2 separate regions of the Homo sapiens genome follow, and region 2 is linked to region 1. A link means that fine-mapping ties the variant in region 1 to the expression of a gene that starts in the linked region. Tissue or cell type: monocytes. Region 1 holds a variant in brackets; the other region holds the start of a gene. All regions are shown on one strand. Distances are between the middles of the regions.

Evidence for each region. PIP is the estimated chance that this variant, and not a neighbour inherited with it, causes the effect.
Region 2: FYCO1 starts here. The variant in region 1 is fine-mapped to the expression of FYCO1 in monocytes (TOPMed, PIP 0.91).

Annotation. Positions count from the first base shown.
Region 1 is chr3:45,915,199-45,923,551 of GRCh38, forward strand. FYCO1 (FYVE and coiled-coil domain autophagy adaptor 1) reads right to left here. Exons shown (of 18, transcript NM_024513.4): 18 at 2,705-6,642. The coding sequence ends at 6,567. It also overlaps a transcript of LZTFL1 not described here. Among named protein-coding and RNA genes, the nearest start is that of CXCR6, 24 kb to the right of the region's middle. RefSeq lists enhancers at 71-1,270, 710-979. The variant C/T (reference allele first, on the strand shown) is at 4,161.
Region 2 is chr3:45,991,258-45,999,257 of GRCh38, forward strand. FYCO1 (FYVE and coiled-coil domain autophagy adaptor 1) reads right to left here and starts at 4,567. Exons shown (of 18, transcript NM_024513.4): 1 at 4,465-4,567. It overlaps LOC105377063 (a long non-coding RNA gene), which reads left to right and starts at 4,646. Exons shown (of 3, transcript XR_940799.3): 1 at 4,646-4,832. RefSeq lists enhancers at 1,820-2,320, 4,366-4,865, 4,366-4,415, 4,436-4,595.

The DNA.
Region 1 (8,353 bases):
CACTGCCCCTTTCTTCCAATGAGAAAGATGGCTTCTGCTAAGCAGCCCTGGGTCCAGCCCTCCTTGCAGCCTTTAGGGAGGCCCTTTCTGTTACCCCTCTTTTCTCATCACTGCTTTGCTCTCCGATCTTTTATCCCCGCACCGCCCACCTCCGCCCCACCCTTCTCCCTCACCAGCTTTCCTCTCTCAAGCCAGGGAGAAGACAGCACCTGCCCCACTGACCTGGAAGACGGACGTTTTGGCCTCCCAGAAATGGCTTCCTTCTCTCCTCCGAGGCTCAGTCAGAGTCGGCCTTGGGAGCAGAAAGCGGGGGAGACCTCCTGAAATCATTTTTTCTGTGATGATTCTATGGACCCACAGGCCCGAAGACAGACCTGTCCTAGAAACAAGGACTTCCTTTTGGTAAGGACACTCATGCATCTCAGGTTTTGTTCATTTTTTAGCTAAAAAAGACTTAATTCATTCAAGGCTTTAGATGGGGCTGTCAACTCTTAGATAACCTCAGTGCCAGCATGGTGGGAGGTGTGAGGAAACCACACTAGTCTCCGACCTCCCCAGAGCTTGCAGGATGGGGGCGGGAGGAGGGGACACACATCAAAGCCCAGAGGTTGGCCATCACCCTTCTGCTCGCATTACCATCCTTCTTCAGAAAACAGCGGGTGTGGGAAAAGTAAAAGGCTGACCTTTCCCTCACCCCTAACCCACTTTGAATGTCTTTCATAATTGCTATGCTTTCCCCCCGCCCGGCTTTTGAGGCTTCAGCTTCAACTGCTGTCTCAAAAAAAGTCCGTTTTCTCATCTTGGGCTACTGGTTTCACCATCTGTTTGCTCTTCAGATGTGTGTGGGTGGCAAGAGGAGATTTTTCCCACGCGTCTTCAAACTGAAAGGGCTGACCTTGCTGTGAGGAGCCTTCTGAGTCACCCAGGAGTCTCTGCATCCTCAGCCCTCACCCGGCAGAGTGGCAGGGAGGGGCGGGGCACCTCTTTGTGCCACAGAGCCTGTGAACACTGAACTGGGCCCGGATTACCTGGAATCAAGCGTGGGGCTTGGAAACCCTCCAGCAAAGACTTGGGTCATCTTGAGTTATTCTGCAGTTTAGCAGGGTGGGGTGAGGTGGAATGGAGGATTTTGACCTGGAGGTCCCCAGATCCCAGCCCCAGATGCACAGCACACACATATATGTATGTCTCAACTGTTTCTTGTTCTAGCCCCCAGCCCATGAGGCCCCCAAGCCTCAGGAAGGACTGTTGTATTAACAAAGAAACTCTCTGGCTCTGTCATTTGGGGCAGGTGGAGTAACTATCTGCCATTACTGCAATCTGGTTACTAGATAGATACTTGATCTGAGGGTACCTTTTTATTTTTTTGAGACAGGGCCTCACTCTGTCACTCGTGGAGTGGCATGATCTTGGCTCACTGCAGCCTCTACTGAGTTGGGACTATAGACATGCACTACCACACCTGGCTAATTAAAGAAAAAAAAATGTAGAGACGGGGTCTCACTGTGTTGCCCAGGTGGTCTTGAACCCCTGGGCTCAAGCAATCCTCCTGCCTTGGACTCCCAAAGTGTTGGGATTACAGGCGTGAGCCACTGCGCCCAGCCCAAGGGCATCTTTGACATAAGAGGGGGTGCAGGGGGTGGGACTGAGTGACCAGCTATCATTGCCTGTATCTCCTCCTGCAGGCCCACCCTTTCCCTCCTCTGCCACCGGAGTGTTTCAGGAGCCTCTATTCCTGGCAGAGTTAGTCGCCAGTGGGAATGCTGATGACTTTTTGGCGACCCAGGGCACTGGGACTGACCCGAGAGGTCAATTCAGTATTTTTTGAGTCCCTTCCTGCCTGGCATGTTGCTCGATGCTGCGGTGGGGAGAGAAGGGAGGAGGGAGATGAAGATAAAGATGAAGGATTCACTGTCTTTTATCCTTGGGAGAGAACCAGAGTTACAGAAAATGTGACTTCTTCCATGGAGTAACAGATTAAAGAAGAGGCCAAACGAAAGTCTGGCAGCAGGAGAGGGCTGGCGGAGGAAGGGCGGTGAAGGGGTGGTGTGGGGAGGTGTTCTTTTGAGGTGCAGAGCACTGCAGGGACAGAGCCCTGGTCATCCCTGGAGTGGGGGTGTGAGGTGAGTGTGGGTGGGCTGCCCAGCCTGAGCTCAGTCCAACATCCAGCAGTGACCAGGGCATGCCCCTCTGGGCCTCTGTCCAGGCTCTTTGCTGACCCAGCCAGAGAAAGGTATGCGGGAATGGGAGGGCTGACTTCTTCCTCTGCCAGCCATCTCAGCCTGGCAGTCTTGCCCAGCTTTGTACCTCATATTGACCAATCATGGTTTTAGGCCATCCATGATGCTTCTCCCCAGCCCCATTGTTCCGGTAAACTCAGAAGTCTGCTCTTTGCTCAACATGCTCTGTGGGTGCCCTGGGAGATCTGGACATTTGAGCTGAGGCTAGAAGCCCATAGGGCACAACAGCATGGATTGAAAGACAGGCTGTCTCAGGCAGGTCTAAACACCACCCTCACAGCAGGCCAGGAAGCAGCCAGGTGCCAGGCCACCTGGAAACTTCCCAGAACATCTGCTGGCTCAAGTCCTCCTGAAAAGCCACCATAAAAGATGCTCTATTTCCCAGCAGCACAGCTCAACCCCAACTCAGCTCTGTATAACTTCGTGGTGCACTTTATGTCCCAAAAAAATGAGAGACAAATGTCTAAATGTCATAGTGTTTACTTTATTTAAATCCTGAGGTTAAAAATAAAGTATTTCCACATGGCATGGCAGACACTATAAAATAATATGCTTAGGGATACAAAAGTTTTCCACCCCCATTGAGCAGGTGGGGTGCTGGTATTTGATGTGCTTCTAGATAATTCTTTGGCAGATAAGAATGAATTGGGGTCCCAGACCCACCATCCCGTAAGGCCACATGAATTGAGGATTAATCAATTAAAGTGCAATTCCAAATGTTGAGCCTTCCAAATGAGGCTTGGGTATTGCTCTGCAGCCACCAGAGGCAGAGTGTCTCTGCATAACATACATCAAGCAGCCTTTTTCTTTTTTTAAATCAGAGATGCCTCCCCAAATTTCAAGATGTACTTTATTATTTTAAAAGTGCTTAAGAGGAAAGAGAGAATTATTAATTCAGTCTCTCCTGTTTCCTTGGAAGAAACATAATGAAATGAGAAGAACTTACTAAAGTTCCCCTACAAAGTGCTTTCTTGGTAAGTGTTTTGTAAACAAGAATGGCCGTCTCGATGGTCTTTGTGTACATGACCATCCTTGGTTCTAAGCATCACGAATGGCTTCTCTCTGCTTTAATTCCCAACACCTCTGAGCCAAGGACAGTTTCTTGGCCTAAAGAATTCTCATATGTAGAATCATGCGCACTTTTAAAACTGAAACTCCTTTAAAATTTCATCAGTGGACATCCAACCATATCATAAAACACAGGCTCTGTGATTTCATCCCCAACTGGCGATTTCCTTTCATTTGGGCCTGAAATAGTTTCACCACCTTCGATGATAATTTTAAAATTTCCAAAACACCATTTATTCTTGAGTTATATGACGTGGCTTTTCATTTCTATTCTCCAAACCCTGTGGAGTTTTTCAGTTCCCGTGTCTTTGCCTGCTCTTGGTCCAGTCCACCTGGAATCCAGTGTGTTGAGGTCAAGCACTCTGTAGAGTCCACTTGGACCTGGAGGACAACACTTTGTGCCAAACGTGCCTCCTTGTTTGTGGGTAAGTGAATCTGACAGAGGTTGGCATGTTCTTGAAGGTGGTGAGTGGCTTCAGTGGCATGATGAAGAAGGCATCTGGTATCGATATGAAGACGTAACTGTTATTCAGAGAGATGAGCCATCAAGGGGCTGCCCCTTTTAAAAAAAAAAAAAAAGAGTGATCTGGGATCCCAAGGACGCTTCCTTCTGGCTGATTTCTAGTGTAATTCAGTCTAGCCAGGGCTACCACCTGCAGCAGTGGTTCTTCAATTGCTATTTGCATTTCTTTAAAGTACCCCAGTCCTTAATTCTCAGTAAAGTTGGGAATCTGATTAATATCAGAATAAAGCTATTTATAAAAGCCACTCTTAAATATGCCAAGATGTTTTGTAGCTGCAGAGAGCACAGCAAACTTGAGCTTAAACAGCAACCTAACAAAATACAAATGT[C/T]CACCCAGCACAAAAAATAAATTCGCTAATGAAACCACATAGTTAGGAAGTCACCTCAGGGCACGGGGCAGTCCTCCGAATGCAGCAAAGGCTTTTTTTGAACAATAGCAGTCAGTGCTCAAGGTGTTGCACGCAAAACATCCAGCTCTCCTGGAGGAGTGGTTCTGGGTAAGCTGCAACCGGTCCTCTGCTGTGGAGTGACATGTTCAGGAAGGACCTCAGATGGAATGTCCCAGGCCCCAAACCCATTAGCTACTCAGTGAATGGTGGTTCTTGTTGCATATGGTGCCAGTGACACTTCAGAAGGTCATCAGCTTGGCCAGAGTCTCCGCAGTATCCTTGGAAAGCCAAGCACTCAAAGATTCTAGATTGCTCTGGGTTCTCTTTTGTTAGTTTCTTTCTAACAGTGAACAAGCTGACTTCTGATTATCATTTGCAAGTGGCTGGATGGATTCAAAGTTAGCATGATTTGTTCTGAATCATCTCAGGCCACGTGGCATGCCTGTGAGGACAAACATCAGGCCAAGAAGAGTCGCTGGGGGCCTGGCCACCTCTATTCCAGTACTAAGCATGGTCAGAGCCTTGGCCAGGAGAAGATGATTGAGCACCTGATGGCTTTCTGCCAGAAGAGGCTGCTCCAAGGAAGCCGAATGCAAGAGGCCCAGCTTTTCTCTGGGCAACCTCTTTGAAAGGTTCTATTCCCTGTTCCCCATGCCTTGCTTAAAAACTGACTGGAAGTGCTCAACTCTCCTGTTTAAAGGTCTGAGTCCATTCCAGAAATGACCTCTTACTTGTGGCCCCACAAAAGTCCTCTTTGTTGGTGGTGAGGTTGTGGCTGCTGGTGTGTGGTGGGTTTGGGGTCTCTGTTGGACTTGGCCTGGAGTCCCTGACCCATTCTCAAGCCCTCAAAACCAGCCAGACCAGGGTTATGACAAAGAGAAACTTTGGGAAATGTGTGACTGGACTTAGGTCACAAGGGTAGCTGGAGGAACTGCCGGGCCCAGCTCTCAGATTCTCGGATAGCCTGTCTGGTGCTCTCTCCCTCACCCCTGGCCAAACTGGGACCTTTTGTCAGATGCTCTGTTCACCCATGGAAGAACCTGGGGCCTGACTGCAGGCAGCTGGTTCCATGAACAAGGGACGAAGAGCTGTCCAAGGTGAGCTATCTGTTGTTGGGGAAGAAAAGGACCACAGAGAACAGGGAAGATTAAATAATTCTTGTCTGGGAATAGGGAACAGGATCTCTCTGCCTCAAGGGGGGATGTCTCCTGGAGGTCTGGTGTGGGCTGAGCAGTGGGAAGTGGGCAAATGGGCTGTTGGGGAACCTGTCAGGAGGGGAGTGGGGCCCAGGGATCCATCATGCCTCTGTTTACTCTGTTACTTTGGTTCTTAAGTTATCAAAGACTTTTGTTAAGAAGGCCCCAATGTTTGAAAGTGGTTCTAATCCTGGCTATGATCATTAGTAAACATGTCTGCAGGTGGGGCAGAAGCTCTTATTTATATAAACAAAAGTGGGCCATCAGCTGAGGAGTAGCTCTAAAGCCAATGCACAATCCTGCTCTGTGGTCACAACATCCACACTGGCTGGCATTTGGGCATTAGATGTAGTGTACACACAGCCATTGCAGGCCCCAAGTACAGTGGGTTTTGCTCTTGGATTATCTTTACTTCTGATTCTTAGGGCAATGCTTTGAGCTGTGGAGAGGTCTGGCTGAGTGAAGGGCTTTATTTGAGGACAGAATCACCCAGACAAAAGGGCCAGAAAGAGAGTGCAGCTTAGAGGCCCCTCCAACACTGCTGAGTTCTGGAGCAGCCTCCAGCTTACTGGGGCAGTGAGGGACAAGAGCATGACTGGAGGAGCTGGTCAGGATCTCCGGGGGGTCCCCTGGCACCGACTCGCATGATGGCTGTGTACCTCCTTTTCCCAGGAGTACCTGAGGGCGTCACAGCCTGAGGATTCACAGGGCATGGCCAGTGCACCCAGCTCAGTCTCCAACATGCAGGGCCCTGGTGGGGCAGGGCAGAAAATCTCTCCACAGGCAGAAGTTGGAATCACCCCTGCCCGTGAAACTCTCCACAAGAGGCCTGTAGCCAACTGTGCTCCCAGGAGAGGCTGATGGTCTCCTGGGTGTTTAAACCTTTGGCAGAGCATCCCTTTGGGTGTGACAACAGCTGAGTCTCTACTTAATGGAAACATTGCCTGAGCCCTTCAACGCCTCGGGGGCTAAGAGTGGCCGGTGCAGAGTGCTGAGCACAAAGTCCTCCCCAGACACCGCCTCTGAGGGGCAGCCCAGGGGCTGAGTTGATGATTTTGGAGCAGCTGACTTTTTAAAAAAATGCTTTATGTGACAGGTGAGGAAGAGCAGTGTTTCCTGTGGATGAAGTGAAGTTACTGAGGTGCTGAAGCTACAGGAAATCACTTCCATCGTAGATCACAGGCCGATCAACCGTCAAGTGATAAAATACCTTTTTAGAGACAAACCTGAGGAAACAGAAATGGAAAGGGAGGGTGTTACCTGAGAGCTGAAAGTCCGAGGGGTGGCAGCTGCTGCTGAGGCCTCTGTGGTCACTGCAGTGACCTGGCTGGGTGTGGGTGCTGGAGCCCCATGCCCCATTTCCTGTCTGTCTAGTGGAGTTCTCTCCCTGGGAGGGTCAGAGGGTTTCGGGACATCACTGTGGACTCTCCTGAGGCTTGGGTGCAGAAATGCCCTTTTGATCACAGGCTGTGAATATCACCTCCCTCACCTGGCTGCTCTGAAGCAGCTGGTGGTGGGGACTGCACAGTGTGTGTATGGTGGTGTGAGGAGCAGGCAATGGGAGGAGGCATATGGTGGAGGCCAGCACGGATTTTTTCCTACTCGGCAGCTAACTCAGTTCTGATATCCATAGTTTGGAAATCTCAAGTAGGCCCCTGAGATGACCTCGATGGGCCAAGGCCAGAGTTTGTCACAGCACCATGGCCACCTCTAGGGATAACTGGGAGCCTGCTCGGGCTTGGGACGGTGCTCTGCCCTCATCACATCTCTCCTTGGTCTCTCCATCAATCCACAGTGTGGTTGCCACTGCAGAGTAGGAAATGGAGACTCAACTAAGGGCCGCTGGGGGAAGAGCAGAGCTTGGGCCTGGTGGTCCCCAACCCATTCTCCTAACCACTGCCCTATCCTGTTCAAGAGGGGCTGGGGCTCATGTCCACTCTTGGGGTAGAGGGTGGCTCCAAAGAGAGCTCTCTGGCCATGATAGGTCTATGCCATGAGGTCCTGCTAACTCCAGGGGTGCTTTCATTTCCACTTGGGAGTGTACGGAGGGGCAGGAGGGGGTGAGGTGGGAAGTTCATCTTCCAACCCCTCCTCTGGTGGGCACTCTTGGCCACAAGCCCTGGCAGTTCAAGGCCTGGAGGTGGTGAGGGGATGACTCAGGTTTTCCCTAGTGTCCTGTCTAGTTATTCTGCTAAGAGCCAAGTACCCATGCTGGGGATGTGACCGGTAGCCCAGGACCTTGCTCAGAGAGGATGTGGCCAGAAACAGATCAGGCAGTTCTCTCTAAAGAGCTGGTTCCAGTTAAGGGGTCTGTGCTGAAGCAGAAGACATAAACAGGGGCAGGTGCCCAGCCCCTCTCCAAATGATTGGCAGATACTCAGTCAATGCTGGTCCTGTCTCCACTCCCCTCCTGCTATCCCTCTGGCCTCATCTCCCTCCATTCTCATTCTCTTGTCCAGCTTCTCCCCCATCTCCCAACCTATACACTCCTGAACCTTAGCTGGTTCTCAGAGTGCTTCCCAGAGATGGCACCTGTCGCTCCCGCCACATGGCCAGGGGCTTTGTGGTGCAGTTTTGGGCTTGCTTATCTCAAGCTCTGCCCTTCCTTCTTTTATTTCTCCCTTTCTCGTTCATTCATTCATTCAGTCTTTCCATTGTATTTCCTAAGCCCCTTCTTTGGGCAGGGCAGTGGCAGAGCAGTGGGAATCAATATCAGAGAGAGGGAAAGGGCACCTTGGTTATGAAGAGTTCAGACTGGCCAGACCGCCTGGTTCAGATCCAGCTCCACCACTGGCTCTGTGACTTAGGAGTGTCACTCCTCTACCCCTCAGCAGTGACATGGTAAGACTCTGCAAGCATGAGCCTGTGTGTCACAAAATCTCTAAAGAACACTGGAACACCACAGGAGAGGGGTCAACAATCAAAGAACAATTAATA
Region 2 (8,000 bases), 76 kb after region 1:
TAATATAATTCAGGGATGGATGAAGTGTGTCTACTCCACACTGCCTACCTAGCCTCTCTTTATAAACAGACCTCTGGTGTCCTGAGAGCTCAGGTGACTGCTGTCAGACATGGGTACAAATCTCTTAACCCAGCTTGTGAGGCCCTTTACAGATGGGCTGCCTGACCTCGATAGGGATAGGCCCATCTTCTTGTCCCTCCTCCTTCCCTTCTTCCCCTCTGCCTATGTTCAGGCATCCCTGCGATGCCCTTCTGTGGCTGGGCCCTGCCTCCAGGGTTTGAATGCTCTGCTCCCTCTGCCAAGGCCATGCCCTGCCCAGCTCATGCTCCCTACACCTTCCTTTGGCCAGCTGCTCCAGTCTCGCTGGGTTTGGTGTGGACAGGAGGAAGTGTGAACCACAGTTCGGTTCCCGAGGAAGCCTTACCCACAGCCTCCTTCACCCCATCCTGGAAAATGAAAAGCACCGCCACCCTCACAAACAACCCTGCTAACCCAAACCTCCTGTCAGGGGGTGAATTGTGCACACCACCCCACCGCATTTCGATGTTGAAGCCCTAACCCTCATACCTCAGAATGTGACTGCATTTGAAGACAGGGCCTTTAAAGAGGTAATGAAGATTAAATGAGGCCATGAGAGTGGGCCCAAATCCAATTGGAACTGGTGAGTTTATAAGGGGAATTCTGGACACACACAAGAGATACCAGGGATGCGGAGCACAGAGGAAAAGCCGTGTGAGGCCACAGCAAGAAGGCGGCTGTCTGAGAGCCAAGGAGAGAGGCCTCAGGAGAAGCCAAACCTGCCAATGGCTTGATCTGGGACTTACAGCCTCCAGAACTGTAAGAAAGTACATTTCTGCTGCTTAAGCCACTCAGTTTGTGGTATTTTGTTATGGCAGCCCTAGCACAAATACACCTCCCAAGGCCCTTGTCTCTCCATTCCTGAAAGTGTGCATGTGACACCATCAACAAGGCAACCTGGGGAGGGGAGGTGCTGGTGGGCCTGGGTTCTGTTGCACTTCTTGGGGAGGAGCATGACAACAGCAGTGCCAGCGTAGGTGCAGAGAGGCAGAAGGTGGGGCCATGCTGCAGATGGGAGGGGCAAGCAGGACCCAGGATGGCTCTGAAGCTGGAGTTGGAGCAATGAGCAAGATATTTTCTTCTCTCTTACCAGTGGTAGCCAAGTTTTGTCAAATGGGACCCTATTTAGATTTTGGAATCAGACTAGTTACGTGAACTTTCCATTATGTATTATGCAACAAAGATCATGCCATGGTTGGGTGAGACCCAAGGTATATTTAGCTTACTCAACTATTTTTAGGCACTCTATCTGTCCTGGGGAAGTCATTTGACCTCTTCCTACCTTTCTTTTTTCAGATGCAATGTTGAGAGGTAAACTTCCTTCATGTGAATTAATTAAGAATTGCAACCCTTGAAGGAGGTGGGAAAGGGGGGGTAACAGACATTCTCAGTGGCTGAGGCTTCTAAGTGTCCCCTCCCTGCTCCTGACCAAGTCTACAGATACCCTGGAAAAAGCATCTGGGGCTGCAGAGTCAACTTCAGGAAATTCCTTCCAGCTCCATTTTAAACCACTGTTTCTGATTCAGCTATCCAGCCCTATCCTGGACTTCACATAGGGATTCTTCTCTTGGCCTTGCCCCCTGCATGCTAATGGTTTTCTTGGAATGCTTTTTTTGGTCCAAGCTTTTCTTTTGTATGCTAAGGACTTCCCCTAACTCGGGTTCCTGGGACTGGCCTAGGGTATAGTACTCTAGATTCCTGAGGTAGTTGGCCAGATCAGCCCTTGGGTCCCAGCCACAGGGCCACAATACTATACCCAAACCACAGATTCTCCTTAAGTCTTTCATCAGAACCACACTGATGTACACATCCTCCAAATGGCATCCGGCCTAATGAGAAACAGGCCCTTGGTGCCTTTCAAATGCCACAGAGATCCAAGTGAACAGGAAGGACCACTGGAAGTTACTAAAATCAACAGGTTGACTGGCTCCCATGTGAGAAAAGGGATAAAACTGCTCTTGCCTAACTGAGCACAGCTTCTGCCATCATCCTCTTCTCAAAGCCATGGGGCCCATTTGCTCCAAGGCAATGGCTCTTATTATGGGGGTAGTACAGACATTTCAGCCATTTTTGTGATGTATCAACGAACAGCAAGAAGGTAAACAGCATTTCCATAGGTAGAACCACAGAAACATTCCAATTCCCACCCTATTGATTTATTTAATTGCTCAGATAGAGGCTCTTATACCAATAAAGACTTCTTATTTTCTTGAAACTGGCATTGAGCTCACAAACAAAATACTGTTTATCTTTTGACTAAGACAAGAACATAGCAGTCATGACGTGAGCAGATGTTGCCCTGACCATAATGGACTCATCTGTGCTCACAAGTTGCCTCTGTAATCACAGGCACCAGTTAATGACCCTTACCTGCTGCCTAGGGCTGCTTGCAGTGAACGTGGTTCCTAAATCTAGGTGCCTACCAGTGATTTCCACCATAAGACCACAGCTAGACAACACACTTCCTCTGCCTCATGTTTAAAGACATTCTAGTCTTGAGTCACCAAAGCTGTGTCTTTGGAATCTTCAGTAAACAAAAGTTACCTATCAGCTAAACATCTCCCCTAAAGGGAAGCAGGGTGGGTGGGGGTGAGGGGGCTGCCATTTCTTGCGTACCTACTTTGTATTCTTGAGTCAGCAGTCCATAGCCTTGGTGACCAATATGGGTCAAAGCTACCAGCTGCTCTGATCTTGCTCTGTTATGGGTGATTCCTCTCATCACAAACATCTATGGGGGCCATCCCCCTCAAAAAGGACCAGGTTAAAAACTTGGCTCCTGAAATTATACTGGTGCTCCAAACCCAGCCCCAAGGGGCAAAGGTCATCGGAACAACAGCTAAAGGATCACTGCCTGAGACTGTTACCAATCTCTAAAGTAACTGCAAAAAAAAAAAAAAATCAAAGTAAAATATTAAGAATTGAGTATACGGATATTCACCATACAATCCTTTCAGTGATTCTGTATGTTTATTTTTCTAATAAAATATTAAAAACAATTTAAAAAGTAAATGAAGTGCTACACAAAGATAGTCACTTTGAACATAAACAGATAAACTCTATTTCCTAAAGCAAGAGCCTTTAGGAGAGATCCTATTAATCAAAGGAGGCTGAGATCCATCACTGTGACAATTAGCTCTTATTTTCAGGGTGATAATAACCACGGTGCACAACTAGTATGGGGCATTCAATGCTTTCAGAACAGTGGTTGTCACAGAAGGGAGGGTCAAGTGGAGCTCACTCAACAGGGGTCCACTTCAGAAGGTGGGAACTACTGAAAGCAGAAAACCTTGGCATGATAGCTCCAGCTCCCCACCCCTCCCCCACACCAGCCCCCAACACCCTCCAGCCGCATTAGGCAGATGGCAGGGGAATTAAGCTTGCAGCCTGAGACCACAAGGCCTGCACGGGCAGGAGAACCAGTGAGCAGATTAAGCCCTGGATCCTCTGCCCCGCAAAAGCCCCTGACCCATTTCTCTGTCGGGAAAGGAAACTGCTGTGGTAAGACAAGCAGAGGGGCTGAGAGGCTCTGGCCAACACAGGCAGTTTCAACAAGTGTTCTATTTTTTTTTCTGGAGAGGACACCCAATGGGAACAGTGAAGAGTGACAGGGACATCAGAGAATACATGTGCTTTAACAGGGGGCCACGCGGTTAACGTGTCAACCACATGTGCTTTTCTTACAAAAAATAAAATCCCGCCATCCTCCCCCCTCCCCGCCCCACCCCCGCCAGGTTTCAACAGCACGGACTCCAGTCCAGTGCAGTGCCGCCACACCAGAGACAACAGGTGTTTCGGGAAAAGACCCCTGGGGGCTAGCTCGAGACCCTGCGCATGGGCACAAGGGGCAGTGGATAGTGAATAGGTCTTGGCCAAAGGATGGGCCAGGAAGAAAGAAGCTTCTTCCCCTCCTGGGAAGAGGGCAGAGATCCGAGCACCAGCGGAGTCTTGCAAAGTGAAGGTCTGGGCTGTCCCGGCCCAACTGGGCCAGAGACTAAACTTCCTAAAGACCACGCAGGCAGGAACTCCGGGGCCTGCCCCATCCTGCGCTAAGACATTCAGGCTTGTTCTGAGACGCCGCATGGTGGGCTCCTTTCCTTTGCGGGCCCTCCGCCCTCCGGGGTCTTGGAACTGGTGTTTGGGGTCTGTCTTTCTAACCGACCAACAGAGGCAGGCTGGGTGCCTGGGCCGGCTTCCACCTGCCCGAGGTGCTTCCCGGCCCGCTGGGCAAGGACGGGGGCGCTCGGGCAGGGTCTGAGGGAGACCTGGGATGGGCGGGGACTGTAAGGGCAACAGGTGACAAGCCGCGCCCCGAGCGAAGCTCTCGCCTCAGGGATCGTGAGCGACCCAGGTGCCCCCAGAGTCCAGCCGGTCTTCCGCGGCACTTACGCGCTCGTGGGTCCACCGCCGGGCAGAACCGAAACTTTCTGGGGCCAAGCGGAAGAGGACGGGAACGCGGTGCTGACGGCCATGACGCGCACACCAAGAGGGTGGCGGGGGCGGACTACAACTCCCGGCGTGCTCCCCGGGGCTGAGGCCTGCAACTCCCATCGGACTCCCGGGGCTCCGACTACAACTCCCGGCGACTCCGCAGGGCGGGGTTTAAGTGCTCCCACCGCCCAGTCCCCGGACCGACTGTCCCACCCGCGACCCATGCTGGCCCCAGGTTAACGCCTGCAACCCCGGAGGGCCACAAATCAAAGGTCTGGCATCTTGACAACAACGCTGTTCTTGTGTGGCTAAGGAGCACTCCAAAGGTAGCTAGTTCGAGTTGAATCGTGCACGTGCTGTAAGTGTGAAATACACCTAGGTACCAAAGAGTCCGAAGAATGTTAACTAGCTCATTAATTTTTAGTGATTGCATGTTAAAATGATAATATTTTGATATATTGGGAAATAGAAAAACATGTATTGGTGGGCCTAATTTCCCATCTTTTAATCCCCCTTATTTCTTAATATCAGGGTCTTACTTAAAATTAGTGCTCAAAAACTACGTGTTTATGAACTACCACCCCTAACTTTGGCCCCATCCTCAGCCCAACTTCTATTTATAAGATGGGTGTTGCAAAGCACTGTGGAACTGAATACGATAGAACAAAATGCATTCAATCAGTGTCCGCTATGGGCACAGTAGAAAAGAGGAACACTACACGGGGACTTTGGCTTCTAACTGACTGCATTCCTTAGCTGTGGCTGGCTATCCTTTACTCTCTGCCCTAGTTCTCATCATTTAAGCCAGAAACAGCTCTCTCCCTTGTAGGACCTAGCTCGTGGTATCCAGTCAGGAACCGTGGTGGCCCAACATTCTAAACTGAGGAAGCAGGGTGTTGTCTGGGTACAATAATACAGAAAGAAAATCAATTTCTTAGTCGATTTTAGGCTATGACATCTCATTAGCCATCTAATTTTATAAATTAGATGTAGCTAAAACAGTGAGTTGGATGGATGGAGTAGTCAGTTTGGGGGTGGGGTTGGGAGGAGGTACATGAATAGAAGTGATTTCCACTCTTGTTAACAGAAAGGAGAACAGAAAGAAAACGGGGGGAGTGAGAAGATGACAAAGAGAAAAGTAATCAATGTAGTGGTCTAAGAGAAATCATTGCTCCAACCACTGTCTGAACAGCTTCATGCAATATTAAGGATGAGAGAGATTTTAATGTTGGTCATCTGGTCCAATATCCTTGTTTGAAACTGTGTGGGGAAAAAAAAACCTCCCTCAAACCGTATTTTTCCTCTACTCTTACACAACAGCAATCATCAACACAGGAGAATAATTTGGTGACCAGATGTGTGTGGGGTTTTCCCCACACACTGAGCAGTGGACCGCACCTGGGTGTCCTCCAATTCAATTCCGACACTATCTACCTGGAGTATCAGATCCCACAAGTGGAGGGCTCAGTCCCCAAGACTGCCTCCTCACCTTTAAACACCAGTTGTAAGTCTAGGCCTCCAGAATTTTGGAATGACTGGCTTCAAGTTGAGTTCCCACGACACCCTCTTTGGGTTCAGCTAATTTGCTAAAGTGGTTCATAGAACTCAGAGAAACACATTTACTGGTCTATTATAAAGGATACTGCAATGGATGCAGATAAAGAGACACGTAGGATGAGGTGTGGAGGAAGGGGCGTGGGGCTTCCATGCCTTCCCTGGATGCACCACTCTTCAGTAACCTCCACGTGTTCAGCTATCCCGAAGCTCCCCGAATCCAGTCCTCTTGGGCTTTTATGGAAGCTTCGTGATGTCAGCATTGCTTCCCCCAGGGTATAGGGGAGGACCCTCTCTTGGGAGGGTCTTAAGACCTATAATCAGAAAGGCGGGGGAAGCGGCTGGGCACGGTGGCTCACGCCTGTAATCCCAGCTCACGCCTTGGGAGGCCGAGGTGGGCGGATCACCTGAGGTCGGGAGTTTGAGACCAGCCTGACCAACATGGAGAAACCCCATCTCTATTAAAAATACAAAATTAGCCGGGCGTGGTGGCACATGCCTATAATCCCAGCTTCTAGGGAGGCTGAGGCAGGAGAATCGCTTGAACCCGGGAGGCGGAGGTTGCGGTGAGCCAAGATCGAGCCATTGCACTCCAGCCTGGGCAACAAGAGCAAAACTCCATCTTAAAGAAAAAAAAAAAGAAAGAAAGGCGGGGGAAGATTAGAGTCCTGCCTTAAAGCAGGTGAAAGGAGGGCAGAAGGCCAGAGAGATTCGGTTTCCTGAAGCCTAACATACCTAACATAACAAAAGACTGTAACAAGGGCTATGGGAGTTATGAGCCAGGAACCATGGAAGAAAACCAAGATAGATAGATAGATAGATAGATAGATAGATAGATAGATAGATAGATAGACAGACAGATAGACAGACATCATAATACCACAGAAACTTAAACCCAAAAGGAGTTTGAAAAGAAAAGGAAAACAAACCTAATATTTATTGAGGACCTATATGCCAGTCCCTAGCCCCCCAGCAAAAAAACAAAAAACAACAACAAAAACCCATTCAGCATTATATTTAAAACTTGCAGCCACTTGGTGACATAATTAGTATTCATTATCATACTTTGAAGATGAGGAGATGAAGCTCAGAGAGGTTAAATGACTGTCCTGGTCCACCCACCTAATAAGTGGTGGAGAGTGGTGGAGGCTGGGGTAGAGCTGGGGGCTCCTGAGGGGTCTTCTGTCACCCAGCACACTGTCAGATACAGGGAAGGTTAACAAAATCACTACTGTTCAGGTAGTTTAACTTGGATTTCCTTTATAGATACAGCAGAGTATTTCAAACTATAATCTTTCAAACAAACATACAAACAAACGCAGCATATTCTTGTGTTCTGATGTGAATACACATTAAGAGATCAGATTCAAAATCACCAAATCCCCACACCCTCTCCTTACAGCCTTAACAAGTGGCAGAAGAGGAGACTATTCCTCACGGGAAGCTGACCGTGCCCACGGCCCTGAGGAGGGATGAGGCTCTTGGAATGATTGTTAAGGGCTTTTTATGTGCCAGGTGCCATGTTATGTGTATTCCACACCTGGTTTAGTTTTATCCTTATATCAGTCTCATGATACATAATTATCCACATTAAGCAGATAAGCAAACAGCCTTAGAGAAGTTAGCTAATTTGCCTAAAGCCCAAACCTTATAGTGGCAGAGACAAATTTTGAGCTCAGGTCTGTCCAATTAGAGTTTAAGCCTTTAACCACTGTGATGGCAGCTCCTTCCATGGGGCAGCCATGTGCTCTGCCAAGGACCCTACCATTGTGGCCCCTGCTGGTCAGGCCAGAAGTGGATGCCAGCCATGCCAATGGCATGGGGTGGCAGCTCAAAAGAGTCAGCCTCCTCTTGATAGTCACTGGTCAATTAATCTCTCTGCTGGAAAATTCGAGTGTAAGACCCACGGAAGGAATCAGAAGTTGACTGCAGAATCAACA